Linked DNA regions of Homo sapiens: region 2 is linked to region 1. Evidence: fine-mapped expression QTL. Tissue or cell type: testis. Region 1 holds a variant in brackets; the other region holds the start of a gene. All regions are shown on one strand. Distances are from middle to middle.

Evidence for each region. PIP is the estimated chance that this variant, and not a neighbour inherited with it, causes the effect.
Region 2: UCK2 starts here. The variant in region 1 is fine-mapped to the expression of UCK2 in testis (GTEx, PIP above 0.99).

Annotation. Positions count from the first base shown.
Region 1 is chr1:165,893,344-165,901,446 of GRCh38, reverse strand. UCK2 (uridine-cytidine kinase 2) reads right to left here. Exons shown (of 7, transcript NM_012474.5): 4 at 5,115-5,257. Among named protein-coding and RNA genes, the nearest start is that of MIR3658, 11 kb to the left of the region's middle. RefSeq lists a silencer at 461-755 and an enhancer at 1,727-2,926. The variant C/T (reference allele first, on the strand shown) is at 4,990.
Region 2 is chr1:165,823,750-165,831,852 of GRCh38, reverse strand. UCK2 (uridine-cytidine kinase 2) reads right to left here and starts at 4,239. Exons shown (of 7, transcript NM_012474.5): 1 at 3,921-4,239. The coding sequence starts at 4,019. RefSeq lists silencers at 3,351-3,580, 3,641-4,120, 4,201-4,450 and an enhancer at 3,332-3,885.

The sequences.
Region 1 (8,103 bases):
GCATGCACAGAGAGGCCAGGGAACGGGGAGGCTGTCATGGCTATGATCCAGGCTGACAGGAAATCTATAAGATGAGAAGGTGAGAAAACTGTCAGGAAATCCACATTTCCAGAAAGCTGGGCACTAATGATGCTGCCATTCGACTTTTGTAACAGCTCCTCGATTTACGAAGTGTTTTCTCCATGGGAGACCTGGTAATAAAACAGTTGGCTGATCGCTAATGTGTCAGGACTTGCCCACCCAGCCCAGCAGCAGCCTTCTCCAGCCAGGAAATGGTTTTCCCCACCCCTGCAACGCTGGACCTGGGCTCCTGCTGCCGACCTGCTGCTCTGGCAGATCTGCTGGGAGACTCGCTAAGAAGGAGCCCTAAGGAGCTGCCACGTGGCTCACCCCCCAGAAGTCCCCAGAGCTCCGGCACACATGGCTAACCAGAGTAGCACCGCCAAAACACACAGCCAGCGCGGCCTCCAATTCTTCACACGTCTCCAGATAAAGCCCAAAGAAAAAAGGAAACCAGATCAAAAGGGTATCAGAGCTAGGGAAAAAACAAACACACCCGTGCTTGGGCAGCTTTTACTTAAAGCCCTGCAAACGCCTGATGCTGGATTGTTTTGCAACACATGCTTTTCATACAATTGCTGAAGGCTTTAGCACTGGAGGAAGCTTTGTCCTTCTCCCAGCACACACACACACACACGTGCACACACACAAACACACATGCACACAAACGCACGCACGCACACACAGTGCACGTCCACACCCTGTCACGTAGTCCTCCTAACTGCCCTCAGCCTGGGCCTTCAGCCCCCTTCCTTCTGTAGATCTGGTGGCTTCAGCTGTTTTGTCACTGGAGAGAGGAAACTGGTCGTGCAGAAAGTAGGAGGAGGAGGTAAATCACAGTGAAGCTGCTCTGTAGCCCAAAAGCTGCTTCTTGTTCTACCTCTATGGGCTCTGGGGGGAAAACTGCCCTGGACCTGAATCCTAACCCCAATAACTCCTACCTCTGTGAACTTCGACAAGTGACTTTAACCTCTTTGAATCTTAAGTTCCTTAACTATAAAACAGGGACAATAATGGTACCTTCCTCATACAGTTACTATTCAGGAATACAGAGATGTGCATAAAACTCTTCAGCACCATAGCTGGCACCTTAGCACATGTTCAATAAGCATGTGTTCTATGATGATTACGACCACAACAGAACCTGAGGACGCGTTGGGAGGGCAGTGCCTCCCTGACAGAGCAGCTCAACACCGTGGGAGCGCGGGAACCTCGAATTCAGGTAAGCAGGTCAGACCCAGCTGAGCGGGGGCAGCAAAGGGAAAAAGGAGTCCCGCAGGGCAGCTGGAAAGGCAGGTTGCCACGCGGGAAGGGAGAGCAGGACACAAGCACATAGGACAACATACGTGAGGAAGGAAAAAAAGCAAGGAAGATAGGGAATAGTCCCACTACAGCTTCCACGCTGGAAAAGCAAATGGGGAATGGGTCAGAATGTTGCCCAGACACTGGGAACATGCAACATCATAAGGCCTTGCCCACCTCTGCTCCCCAAGAACCTCCGATAGAACTATCACCTCAGGCAGACTGTGCCTCCCTGAGCCAAGGACAACAGAGGGCCAGCCAGTTCCCTGCACTGAAAGGCCCTTCTCCTCAGGCAGAGTCAGGAAACAGGGCCGCGCCAAGGACTGAGTCCAAACAAGGTCTTGGCACAACCTGGAAACCCCAGGGGCTCAAAACCAGCCCCTCCATCACTGCTCTGACCCCAGCACATTTGCTGGGCCAGGACAGGCCTTTTCAGAGGACAGGGTACAGGGCAGGAAGCTACAAGTCTGCCCACATTCCCTGCTGGGCTTCCACGTCAGCCCTTCCAAACCCAGACTTGCTCTTTCTGGTTAGCCAAAAGCCAAGAAAGAAACTTAGAGGGACCCAAAATAAAGATAATTCCTCAATGGTGAAGTCAATCACTTTAAAAATCTGATGAGGAAATGTGCTACTCTATAGTAAAAGAATGGGCTGAATCCCCCAAGGCCCAGTGCAGCCCTAATTCTATGAGAACCAGAGAATGATGGATGAGGAAGATGAGGGGTCAGCCATCCTGAATCTCCCTGCCCCACCTCCTCCCTGTCCCCGTATTCAGAGCTGGGTGGTGGTAAAGAGCACAGAGGGAATATGAAGGCAAATGAGGCTAGAAACCAATCCCGAGAAGATCAAGGGTTTCCATCAGGAAGGAGGTAGTTTCCAGGGCTGCTTCACTCAAACACAGATCTCTCTCCCACATGAGGGTCAACTCAGAATCTGGAGGTCACATGCCCAGGAGGGTGTGACAGATGGGTAAAATCATGGAGCTAACTCAAGTCTCCAGGAATGTTCAAGCTCACTCAACAGCTGCTTCTGACTAACCAGCCTCCCTACCCCAGCACCCCCGCACTCCACAAAGCACATGCCAAGCATGTTTTTTGTCCTACGTGGAGAGAGAATGAATTTGTAGAAATAGCATGCAGAAAAGTCCCATGAATCCATCAGGAAAGTGACTCGGCAGTAGGTGACATGTGAAGTTAGCAGATCTGAAATGAGAAAGCAGAGCCCTGCCCAGGCAGCCTGTTCAGAGAAGGCGGAGAGGCAGAGCTGGCCCTAAGAAACCCCCAGAGGGCCAGCACCATTGTAGGAATTGCTCCTATTTCACATAAGAATCCCATGCAAGAAAGGAAGGGAAAATGTTCTGTTGAAACCACACCGTGATGATCTGTTTGAATTAGACACTAGGATGCACTTTATTTCCAGCGTCTTGCTGCTGCTCAAAACTTGGTTCTAATCTCCTGTGCTGGTTCCTGCACTCCCTGCTGCGAGGCCTCCCTCGGCAGCACTGCATCCCTGAGACTGAGTACCACTGCTGGACTAGTGATGGCATCAGTCCGGGCATCACTAGCTCCTGAGGACATGACCGGAGCAGATCCCCTTGGAGGATCTAACCAGTCTTGTCAGAAAATTCAGAAAACGAACAGCACCGACCCCTTCAGCAGAAGCAGATTTCTGATCTGCCACATAGATATTTATTGACTAATGCACCACCAGGCATTTTACCTGCACTACCTCTCATCTTCACAACTATCCCAGAAGTACCAATCATAAGACCACATTCTAATAGGAAAATGAGATACAAAAAAGTTAAAACACAATTTGCCAATTTGCACAATTTGCCACACATCTAGTAAGTGGTAAAACCAGGATCTCAGCCCAATTCGCTGGACTCTAAAATTTATCTGTCCCTGTGTATCACACTGCCTCTCTAATTTGACAAGCTGACATGGACACTGAGCAGATCAACCAAAGCAGGGCCGGAGTTTGTGGATTAAGGTGACAAGCCAGGCCCTGGGGCAGAAGCATGAGGGGTTGTCAGGCTCAGGGTTCAATTATCTATCCAAAATGACCATGCAACTCTTACCCAGCCAGAGTCGTGACACTAAAAGCAGGCCTGTCTCCCCTGTATTATCCATAAAGAAACCCAAGCCGGGGTGTCGCAAGAGCCTAGTCACAAAGCTAGCTGGGAAGGGCTCTGCTAGAACTAAAAGTCTCCTCCCATTCCATTCTTTTTTCCATCACACAAAACTAACTGTCCCTCACCCCACCTGGGAGCAAGATGTAGCTCCCACTGACTTAATAGCATATGTATCTATTACTACTTAGAAGGGCAAAGCTCAGGACTTGTTTCTGTAGGTTCTACTGGTCTCATGAATAGTTCTTACAATTACGGTGCTAAATGGGATAAACTACAGATCTGTTTCATGAACCGAAAAGAGAAAATTACCCAGACTTTGAAGTCAGAGGGCCCTGGGATACAGCTTATAATATCTGAAACTGTCAATAATGTGTCCTGTGACTAGGAGCTAACCTCGTCATTTCCTGTGTCTCCCTGCCTCTGTCACACAACGGAGACTCAAACCTTCTCACCTTTCATTCCTCTATTCAGTCGCCTCCACCCACTGCCCTTGCTGGGTCCTGGTCGATTCTAACTCTGCTAATACTCTTCTCATCTCAACTCTGCTCCCTCTCCCACCCATCTAAGGACCACAGCCCTGCCTCTCGTCTAGATCAGCAGAGCAGTCTCCAAAGAGCTGCTCCAGCTACAGGCTTCACTTACATTTCCTTTGTCAGAACCAGTGTCCAACACAGAACAGTGGCCACTTCACTTGCCTCGCTCAGAACCTCACAGTGGCTCTCCCTTGCCCACCGAGAACCAGACTAGAGATCTCAGTCTCTAAAACCAGACCCCAACCTACTTTGTAGTGTCTCTTCGTACAACCCTCTGTACACTCCAGGTTCCTGCCACTCTCGGAACAAGCCACTGTCTGTACATCTCTGCCGTGCACCTTCATGGGTTGCCTATAGCGTCACCCTACCCCACCACATCCAAGTCCCAACCCTTCTTCCTCCATGAAGCCTCCCAATCTCTCCTGGTGGAAGCGAACTCTCTGCTGAATACCCTGTAGAGCTCAGTTCACAGGCTGGGCTCCTCTACCAAGGGGCACTGCTGTGCCTTCAGCACACAAGCACAGGGACTTAGCACAGGCAGGCCCACACTTAGTAGGGCCTGCGGAGGGCACAGCTGACTTCCCTCCTGAGCTGACTGGAAAGAGTGATAATGCCTCCATAAAGCCTGCTGGAAAATAAAGGGCTAGAGAAGCAGGCTAACAGGATGAGCTGCCCAGTACTTCAGGCACAGGGGATCCTATCCTCGGGGGTCCTACAGTTAGTTCCCCAAATCAGAGCATCTTCATTTTGATGTCTTATAAACAAATTGCAAGGAACTAAGCATTTAATCAAACTTTTCCAGGCAAAACCAGATGTCAGTGTCTTATTTAGTCTCTGTGACCTCACAAGCCTTTCGTTATCCCAAACAGTAAGTGACTAATCCCTTCTCAAATGTTACCAAGTGTCTGGGCAGCAGGATATCCTGGGGCTGGACTGACGCAGCCGGGCTGGACCATGCGA[C/T]ACACAGCTGCCTCAGGGAAGGCATGGGCTTCAGACTCAGGCGGGTGGGGTCCTGTCACAGGCTCCCAGCTCCCCCGCCCTCAAGGTGGCCACCAACAGGGCCACCTGAGGCTTTTAGAACGCACCTCTGCGTGAGAGCCGGGTGTCCGCATCTGTATCCACAAAAAGCTTCATCTGGAACAGGTCTCGTACCTCCTGGGAGTAGAAGGCCAGGATCCCTTCAAAGAGCACCACGTCTGCGGGATAGACAGTAACTGTCTCCTCCTTCCTGCAAAGCACAGAGCAGATAATGGGCCAAGCCAGGCAGGGGCTAGCAAGGGACAGAGAACAAGGGCCAGAACATCTGGCTGGGCTGGGTTCTGGGTTCCTTGCCCCCACAGACTTCAAGCGGGGGCTAAAGACTTGGCTAATATGGTCTTACAGAGCCCTCGGACCACCACCAAAGAGCCAAGGGTGATCACGGCCGGGACAAAGGTCTCCTTTGACCACTTCTGAGCTTTCACCATGAAACAGAAATACACGGCAGACATCCTTCTCCTTGGAATTAAAAAAACCTGCTGTTGAATGAAGAATAAAGGCAGACAAAAACAGATGTGATTTCTTTTTTTCTCTGAAGGCGTCTCCAGGAATGCTCTCATGGCCTGGCATTTATGGAACCTAACACTCTGAACTTTAAAAACAGAAACTCACAGTTTTCTCTCAACAACTCCATCCCCTCCCCGCCAGTCCTGAGGCAATTGAAAGGAGGGAGGAAAGGACAGAAGGGGAAGGGAAGGAGGGAAAATAAAGAAAAGTTTTGGGAAAGAGGATACAGACGAGAAAGCATTTGTGAGGAAGTACAGAATCCCGACGTCTGTCTGGTCTGGCTCTACCCCAAACCAACAAAGTGGCCACAGGTCAATCCTGAGCTCCCTAGAGCTGCTCTTCCTTATCAATAAAGCAGAAATATGCATGACCTCATCCACCCAACCCACATGGTTGGGTAGCCTAGGGCAGGCACTAATTGTAAACATGACTTTTCTTTCTTTTTCTTGTTTTTGGAGACAGGGTCTCACTTTGTCACCCAGGAGGCTGGAGTGCAGCGGCGCAATCTTGGACTCACTGCAGCCTCAACTTCCCAGGCTCAGGCGATCCTCCCGCCTCAGCCCCCTAAGTGTCTAGGACTACAGATGCACACCACCACCCCAGGCTAATTTTTGTATTTTTGGTAGAAACGGGGTTTTACCATATTGCCCAGGCTGGTCTATAACTCCTGGACTCATGCAACCCACCCACCTCAGCCTCCCAAAGTGCTAGGATTACAGGCATGAGCTACCAAGCTCAACCAACATGACTTTTCAAAAAGCAAGAAGGGTGAAACATTGCTAAACGGTTAGGCGACGGGCTGTCACAGATGGCCTTGCTTGTGCTCAGCTTTGCCTTGCTGCAGCTTTCACTGTGTTTTGTCTTTTGATTCTGTCCTATGCCCACCTTATATGTCACCAACTGCCTCTTGCTCAAAATTCACTGAAAATAGAGAAATAATCATCATTGCAAGGTTTCCACTCACCCTGACTAGCACACTGGCAAACCAAATAAAACAAAGTCTCTTAAAACAGTAGTTCCATCTGTGCAAACATAAGGAGGTCAGTATCAACGGCCAGCTCAAGAGGGTGCCGTTGGAACTCCTTCCCATAAACACTTCCTGATGCCTTCTCAGCTTGGACCAACAGGCTTGTGTCTGAGTTTTAAGGCAGGCACTGCTAGGGTAGCTAGCAAGTGGCAGAACGGGGCAGGGAAGACGGGAAAAAAGGACTAGGATTAGGAAATGCCCTAGAATTGTGGTGTATCTGAGATGCATATCAGAACCATCTGGGAAGCTTATAAAAATATCCCTACCTGGATCCTACCCCCAAGGAGCTCTGATTTAATGAGTCTGAAGTGGAGCTAGAACTTCAACACTATTTAGAAGCTCCCAAGATATTTCTAACATGCAGCCAGGGTAGAGAAGCACCAGTCTAGAGGAATGTCAGCTGCCAGAAAATGGTGTGCCCATTGTCATTGTGCATAAGAAGGCAACCTAGAGAAGTTCAGAAAACAGAACCAATGGGTAAGTGAAATAGTGAGCCACTCTCTAGGCAACTCCCCTACACCAAGGAGAGTGTGGGAAGGCTTTGTCCAAAAATAAAGTGAATGTATGTGCAAGAGTCCACTTGAACACACTAACAGAGAACACAATGGCTGCACTAAGTTTACATATCCAGGTTAAGTATCCCTTATATGAAATGCTTAGGTGTTTAGAATTTTTGAATTTTGGATTTTTTTCAGATTTTGGAATATCTGCATTATATTTAGGGCATCCCTAATATGGCAGGGGGAGAGAGGATCTACAATGAGCCTCCCTAACATGAAAATCCAAAATCTGAAATGCTCCAATGAGCATTTCCTTTGAACGTCACACTGGCACTCAAAAAGTTTCAGATTTTGGAGCATTTCACATTTTGGGTTTTTAGATTAGGGATGTTCAATCTGTACTGACACTAGATATTAAGAGCATTTTAGGATGCCTAACTGATAAATACTAAAAAGGAAAAGTGGTTTTCCTTCGGAAGGAGAAAATTAACTGCCTAATTTGTTGGTGGTGCCTTAAGAAGTTAGAATTAATCATTTCCCAAGTCCAAACGCAGGTCTAAAAACTGTCATAACAGCTCAGAGTTTTTAAAAAACAACAACAAATTTATTGAGCAACTACTAGCCCAGAATGTGCAAGGAGTCATACCTGGCATAATATACCACTTAGGAATTTAGAGTCTGGCTGGGAAGCCCCAGAAAGAAACTAGCCAATTAGATCATCTGAGATAACCCAGTCTAACCATCTCATTTGGCTTATGGGGAAAAGGATGCTCAGAGAAATGTAATTGCAACAAGTAAATGTCTTCTTCATTTTAGCCCAACAAATTTTTGTTTGTACCAAACGCCCATGGGTGGGATGGAATCAGTTAACCCTGAATGGCTCGATGTCCAATTAAGTGGCCCTTAAGATTTGCAAGGAGGTAGGAAAGGGGTGGATATGGGTCTAGGGTGATCAGTGAAAGTTTCTAAGACATGAGCTTTGAGCCACTAAAGGATAAGGTT
Region 2 (8,103 bases), 70 kb after region 1:
TGGAGGTTGCAGTAAACCAAGATGGCACCACTGCATTCCAGCCTGAGTGACAGAGTGAGATTCCATCTCAATAAAAAATAAAATAAAAAATAAAAATAATAGCCTGGGACCATATTAGGGGCCAAGGGGATTTGTACTGTACTGAAGTGTTTGACCTGTACTGAGCAGTGGGGAGTTACCCAAGGTTTCCAAAAAGGAAAATGGCACATCCAGAGCTATTCCTAAGGAAGACCACTCTGATGGCAGTGTAATGGAGCAGATTTTTCTCGTTTCAGAGGCTATTTTAGTTGTCCAATGAAGAGGTTACAGAACAAGGAACAGGCAAAGATGAAAAGGAAACAGAATGACACCTAAAAGTCACAGATATGTATGCAGGCAAAGAAGTTTAGCCTGGGTTTTTTTCCACCTTTTAGTGTTATTACACCTGTCCTTTAGGGGGAAATATGAAAATCTGGTTTGGTTTGCTTTTGAGATGGGGTCTTGCTACGTTGCCCAGTCTGGAGTACAGTGGCACCATCAAAGCTCACTGCAGCCTCCAAGTCCTAGGCTCAAGCCATCCTCCTGCCTCAGCCTCCTGAGAAGCTGGTGGCACATACATGGCTAATTTTTAATTTTTCGTAGAGACGGGGTCTCTCTCTGTTGCCCAGGCTGGTTTTGAAGGCATCCTCCTTCCTTGGCCTCCCAAAGTGCTGGGACTAGAGGTGTGAGCCACCGTACTCAGCCATAACCTTTTTTGGTTTTTGTTCGAGACAGGTCTTGCTCTGTCACCCAGGCTGGAGTGTAGTGGCACAATCACAGCTCACTGCAGCCTCGACCTCCCATACTCAAGCATTCCTCCCACCTCAGCCTCTAGACCTGCAGCACTGCACCTGGATAATTTTATTATTTGTAGAGAACAAGTCTCACCATGTTGCCCAAGCTGAGAATCTGGTTTTAAACATAGGTCAAAATAACTTTCTCGACCCACCACAATTTTCATTTTATACAGATGGGGTCTCACTATGTTGCCCAGGCTGGCCTCAAACTCCCGGGCTCAAGCAATCCTCCTGTCTCTGCCTCCCAAAATGCTAGGATTACAGGTGTGAGCCACCAGGCCCAGTCTTGGACTTTTTTAATAACAAAAATATCAATAATCTTAAAGGATGACAAACTATCAATCATTCGTATGTCAAAAATGTACAAACAAGCTTGGGCAACATGGTGACCTAGTCTCTACAAAAAATAAAGATTGCCGGCGTGGTGGCGCACACCTGTAATCCCAGCACTTTGGGAGGCCGAGGCGGGCGGATCACAAGGTCAGGAGATTGAGACCATCCTGGCTAACACAGTGAAACTCCGTGTTTACTGAAAATACAAAAACATTGGCCAGGCGTGGTGGCGGGCACCTGTAGTCCCAGCTACTTGGGAGGCTGAGGCAGAAGAATGGCATGAACCCGGGAGGCGGAGCTTGCAGTGAGCCGAGATCATGCCACTGCACTCCAGCCTGGGCAACAGAGCAAGACTCTGTCTCAAAAAAAAAAAATAATAAAAAAAATAAAGATTAAAAAGCCAGCCCAGGTAGTGGCTCACACCTGTAATCCCAGCACTTTGGGAGGCAGAGGCGGGCGGATCACTTAAGTCTAGGCATTTGAGATCAGCCTGGCAACATGGCAAAACCCCTTCTCTACAAAAAAAAAAAAATTAGTCGGGCATGATGGTGCAAGCCTGTAGTCTCAGCTACTCTGGAGGCTGAAGTGGGAGGATCACTTGAGCCCAACAGGTGGAGGGTACAGTAAGCCAAGATCTCACCACGGCACTCCAGCCTGGGCAAAAGAGTGAGACCCTGTCTCAAAAACAAAACAAATCAAACAAACAAAAAAATTAGCCAGTCATGATAGTGCCAGCCTGTACTCCCAGTTACTCCAGGTTGAGGCTGAGGCTGCAGTGAGCTGTGACAGTGCCACTTACTCTGGGCTAGGTGGAAATGCGAGACCTTGTCTCAAAAATTAAATTAATAAATAAAAATGTACAACATGCTTTGAAAACTGCAGAAAAACGGACCCTTCCTTTCTTGAGAGTTTCTACACTCTTCCTCCTGGATAAAAATAGCAGAGAATTAGCTACTCCCACATTGGCTCACCACTATCCCATCCCTCACTTTACCCAAGTAACACCAAAAGCTTGATTATCAAGTTAGAACAGGTGACGACTGAGAAACACACAAGAAGAACAATAACAGAGTTATTCACCTTTTAGGGTCGCAGTTTTCACCCTCGTGGTAACTAAATTATTCAGATGATTACCAAGATCATTTTGTTTCTAAAAGCTCATATGCAAGTTTAAGCCTCCTCCCCACTTTAGGAGGACTGGACTTCAGCTTAAAATTTGGACCCCACTACATGCCAGGCAGGCATTGTGCTAGGAGGGCTGGGAAAACAGCCATGAACAACAACAACAAAAAATGCTCCCAATCCAACAGGAATATGCCAGAAGAGCAAGAATAATTCTAAAAGAACAGGTAAAGCTTCCTGAAGGGCTAGCATTCTGGTTTTGCTTTGAATTACTAGTATAAGTCATAGTAAAGAACATACTCAAAAATTACAAATTTTTTTAAAAGCCTTCAACCAGGGAGCACACAGAACAGAAACTTCAGGACCTAAAGCAGGCCGATTCCTAACCCCGGGAGCTACGGACGAGATCAACTTCATCAATAAAGAAGTCCAGCAGCGCCAGCCGCCGTGTCTGGCTGGGCTCCTTGCGCTAAAGTAGTCCAGACCAGGAGGGAAAAATGTAAAACCAACATGGAGGAGGGGCTACTGACGAGTCGGTTCGGGAGCTAAAACCTCGTGGCTCTTTCCTCATGGCGCCAACCAGCCTTCCTGCTCTGCTCTCCCCAGCCGGGAGAAGCATCATCCTGCCTCTCCAAACCAGCACCCAGCACCCAGCTCTCAGGATCCCTTGAGGAACCCGTGCTCCAAATGAAGTTGGAGGGTGTTAAACGGTGGGAAAAACAAGTAGCCACATCTTAAAGGCTGTTAGGGGAGCAAAGAAAGAACCATCTGGGAGGACTCCACCCTTCTCCACCTGCAGAAAAAACCCCGGGTAAAGCTAGGAAGTCATTTCCCTTGTCTCTCCTTGCCTTGCGGATAAAACAAAGGAAACAGGCTCCTAAGAGGGTCAGACACCCATACGATGACCCCCTTCCGTGGATCCAAGACGCGTACGTCCTGGACACCGAAGAGCTTGGAGCCAGTACAACTTTCTCATTGAAGCCGACCACGTTTCCTCTTATAACCTTAAAAAACAGAAGCCCCTACTATTATCGTTTCATTGATGTCACGGCACCTATTTGGCTCTCAGACTTTTACCCGGAAACCCCTGTAATCCCCAGCCCTTGCGTGCAGCCCCACACTGGGCTCCCCTTCCCCGGGATGCCGCCTCGCGCGTTCCCGCCACCCTCGCCCTCTCGGCCGCGCTTCCCGGCTCGCTCCGCCCTCGGCACCAGGCTGCGCCGCGGGGCGAGCACGTCTGTGCCAGACCGGGGCTTGAGGGAGTCCATCGGGGGTTAGTGGGGGATCCTGCGGAAAGCCCTCTCCCCCGACACTGGAGTTGCAAAACAATAAGCATCCGCTTCCCTGCCCTTCCCCCATAGGACCCCGGCCACGAGTTATTAACGCGGGGGGAGAAAAGCCGGAGGAGCACTCCCGCCCTGCGATCGTGGCCGCGTACCCCCGGAACCCCCAAGGCCCGAGTCTTCGCCTGCCCCCGCCGCAGCGCCCCCAGGCCGCGCGGGGCGCACTCGGCGCTGGAGCGCGGCCGGGAGCGGAGGCGCGCGGGCCACGCGGTGGCTGCCGCAACTGACACGGCCCGCGGCCGCCGGCCACATGCGCCGCCCAGGGACAGAAGCCGGGAAGGGAGCGCGGCTCCGGGCCCCGCCGTACCTTGCCGCTAGCTGTTCCCCCGCTGACGCCTATAAGGAAGGGCTCGCCGCCGTTGGGCTGCTGGTGGTTCTGCAGGGTCTGCTCGCTGTCCCCGGCCATGGTTCGCGCCGCCCCTCCTCCCGCTGCCTGTGCGAACGGACGCACGCTCCCCGCCCGCGCCCGCGTCGGACTCCCTCCGCTTTCCGCAGCCGCCGCTGGGCGCTGCCGGGGCTGAGGCCGCTGTCGCTCGCCTGCGAGCCGCTCGGAGCCCGGTGACGGGGCTGGGTTTCCCGAAGGAGCCAAGAGCCTTCCTTTGCCCGCAGCGGCTGGTCCGGTTTACATCCCAGGCAGAGGTCAGCGTGATGCTGCTGCTCCAATCCGGGCGGGCAGCGCGCTGCTATTCGCCGAGGCGGAGGCGGCGAGGCGTCTGGCCCCAGCCTCCGCCCCTCCCGGGCCCCGCCGCCGCCCGAGGTCTCTGCGAAAGGTGTGAGCCCGACCTTCCCTCCCACCCGCCCGGTTAACCCTTTCTCCGACGCGCCCTAGTGGACCCTGGGGGAAAGAAACAGGCTGTTCTGTATTTTAATTTGGTATGCTACCACCTATTTTCAGAAGGGATAAAAAGCTTGAAGGAAATAATAGGCAGATTAGATAAGAAGGAATGGCCCAGGTTTGAGAAGCAAAATTTGAACAAGCTTGAAAGATTAGTGTGGAACGAAGAGTTAATGTCATTTACCCATTATCCAGGCTAAAAACTTGTGTTTCCAAAAAATGAGGGTTCTTTTTCCCTTCTCCCGTTCGCCAAGATAATATGTCAGCCGCTGGCTTTAGATATTTCCTGTCTTGGAAACCCCCCAGCGCCATCCTTTTTAGCAGGCCTGTCCTCGTGCGACTCTCTAGTGAAGGGCAATTTGAGGGGCTTATCTGAAGGGTGCCCTCCGTTGGAAAAGCAATTCCCTTCTAAACCACAGTATCTCATCCCATACACTGAGCTTCCTATGGAGTTAGGGTATCTGAAAACATACTGACATTTTGATCCATTAATATCTTCAATTGAACGGTTTTCCAGAGATTGGCAATCAGTCACTTAGAAAGGCAGTTTCAGACTCCACCTCTGGAGCCAGATTTCTGCATTCACATCCAGGTCCCTGAGCAAGTTACTTAATCTCTCTGTGCTTCAGTGTTCTTATCTGTTAAATGGGAATAATAATGGCAATTACATCCCAGGATTTTTGTGAGAATTAAATGAATTAGTGTATGTAAAGTTCTCAGAACAGTGCTGGTACAGTCTAGGCCCTGTATTAGTGTTTGAAGAGAAAAGGTTTCTAAAGCGCTGAAACTGGAAAGAAAAGTTTTGCTGGGACACACCTGAGAGAGGCAGGACTAGCCTAGTAACTTCCAGTCTCTTCTCCTGTGAACTTGGGACTAGTATCAATGAGCTGATGGGGCCTACAATCTAAAACAGAATTTACGTCAATAGCATTATCTTTTGAAACTTAGTAAATTACCTTAAATTGAAGATTATTTTGAAAAAAATAATTTTCTCTCAAGCCAGGGAAATCGAGGCTGCAGTGAGCCATGATCTCCCCACTGCACTCCAGCCTGGTCAGCAGAGCCAGAGCCTGTGTCAAAAAACAAAAACAAAAACAAAACAAAACAAAAAAAAGGATACCAGAGAAAACAAACTTTTTTCACTTTTAAATTAAAGTTGACACTTGAACAACACTGGTTCAAACTGTGAGGTTCACTTTTATGCAGCTTTTTTTTTAAACCAAGGGCAGATGGAAAACACAATATTTGTGCAGTTTCCTCAGGACTGACTGTGGGACTTCATGTGTGGATTTGGTTACATGTAGGCTGTCCTGGGACCAGTCCCTCCGCATATATCTAGGAATTACTGTATTTTATGTCACCATCTAACATCAAACTCGGTAGCAGCTCAGACAGGAGACAAAGATGGGGAGAGTGGCCACTACCTGGTACCCAGAAGCAGGCATTTGGGTGAAGTTTCCTAAAGGGGTGCCTTACCAAATAGCTATGGAGTGGGTGAGTTTTAGGTGGTCCTAGAGTTAGCCTCTTCTCCAAAAGGTCTTTTCTCTACTAGATAGATTTATTAGTCATCATGGACTTTTGTAGAACTCTTTATAGCCCATTGGAATTTGGAAGTTGAACCTACAGCTAAGGGTTAGCATGGGGATATTAGGTAGTTAAGGAGAAGAGGAGGAGGATAAAGGAATGCCAAAGGCCAGTGGGGTGGCTCATGCCTGTAATCCCAACATTTTGGGAGGCAGAAGAGTGAGGATCACTTGAGGCTAGGAGTTTGAGACCAGCCTGGGCAACATAATGAGACCCCCATCTCCACAAAAAGTACAAAAATTAACTGGGCATGGTAGTGCACACCTGTAGTCCCAGCTACACCAGAGGCTGAGGCAGGAGGATCACTTGAGCCCAGGAGTTCGAGGTTGCAGCTGTGATCATGCCATTGCACTCCTCTATCGACTTGTCTCTTAAAAAAAAAAAAAGAATGCCATGTCTTTCATAAACTTTTCTCAAATCTGCATCTTCCTTGTCATTCCTATAGTGTTTATTCCATAATATTTTATCATAAAAATTTTCGAGCACAGTTGAAAGATTTTACAGCAAACACCAGTATACCCACCACCTAGACTCTATCACTAACATCGTACTATATATATACTTGCTTTAAAACATAACTGGTCATCTACCCATCCCTCTATCCATCAAGGCATTTTTATTATAGGACTTACTTCCTTTTGCTTTGTTAATTTTAATTGACTTACTCCACACTGGCTTATACATTTCTTGTTTGGTTTGTTTTGTTTTGTTTTTAATTACTATATCCCCAACGCCTGGAACGGTTCTGGCACCTTGTAGGGCCTCAACAAATGAAAAGAGATAATGTCTCATTTCTACATCCCCCAGGCCCACTGAGCAGAATGATAAGCAAGTAGGAAGCATTTAATACATGATAAATGAATGAACAAATGAATGAATATGGAAGTAAGGACACCAACAAGTAAACTTAATTTCCGTCACTTTGGAAGGAAAGGCTTGTTCCCTTGATTGTATTAATGTGGTTACTATACTTATTTCTGAATGTTTTGTTTTCCTGGCATTCCAGAGTGACTGTCCCCATCTAATCTTAATGCATCTATTACCTAGTTGAGCTAATTCATTAACTGAGCTAATTCTCAATACTTCTCTGCACTTTGTTTAATAATAATAATATTTGACCTCTGTGCATGAGTTAATATACCTGAAAGTGTCTGAAAAAATCAAAAGCATTCTATATAAAGGTAAGGCCTAATTAGCAGAGGGCAGCCATCTGCATTCTGTACTCCCTGTTTTTCTTTCTCCTTCCTATCCCTAGGGCTGGCTTGCCTACATGTAAGGAAATTACCCGTGTCCATTTAAATTATGAAGAGTACTCTCAGCTCCACTGACCTCAACAAGGACTTTCACATCTCTGCCCCCTACAAAGCAAGGCAAGCTGCCTGTGCTATTCCCTGTGCTGTGTCATCCTCTCTTGGGAGCTTGGTCACCAAATCCCATAGCTAGGGATGTTCAAATCACATTTGAGCCTACCATAACAATTACACTGCAGATTCTGAATTAAGTGGTTTTGAGCTGTCCTCCTTTTCCTCCCACTAAAAAAAAAAAAAAATCTAATTTTTTAACAAAATTCAGAGTTAGAACAGATTCAAGGAAATACATTTTCTTGGTATCTGTGATGATTTTTTTTTCTTTTACAGATTTCAGTCTGATCAAGTTCTGGCCTAGTTAACATTTGGGCACGAAGTCAGCATGAGTATGCAAGTGCAGCTGTAGCCAAAGAACAATAAGAGACATTGCTGTTGACAGTCCTTTGTCTGCCTGCCTTCTCCCCTTGAGTAGCCATAGTTCTGAACTAGACAAGGAACGTTACATTTTGCACCCAACTGAAATGTTCTTTCTCTAGGTGCTTCATGCACCATGATCAGTTCTCTATTTGTTTATCTCATTCCCCAGCCAGAAAAATAGATGTTATCACACTTCATCATGTATCCAAAGTATTATCGTTCTCTGTATTACCTTTCTAATTACTTTCCACCTTTTATCAATCAGCAGTTGCTTTGTCAGATCATAAGTACTGTTCTGAAAAGATGGCTGGATGACGTTAAAGCTCTCTGACCTTAATCAGTCACAT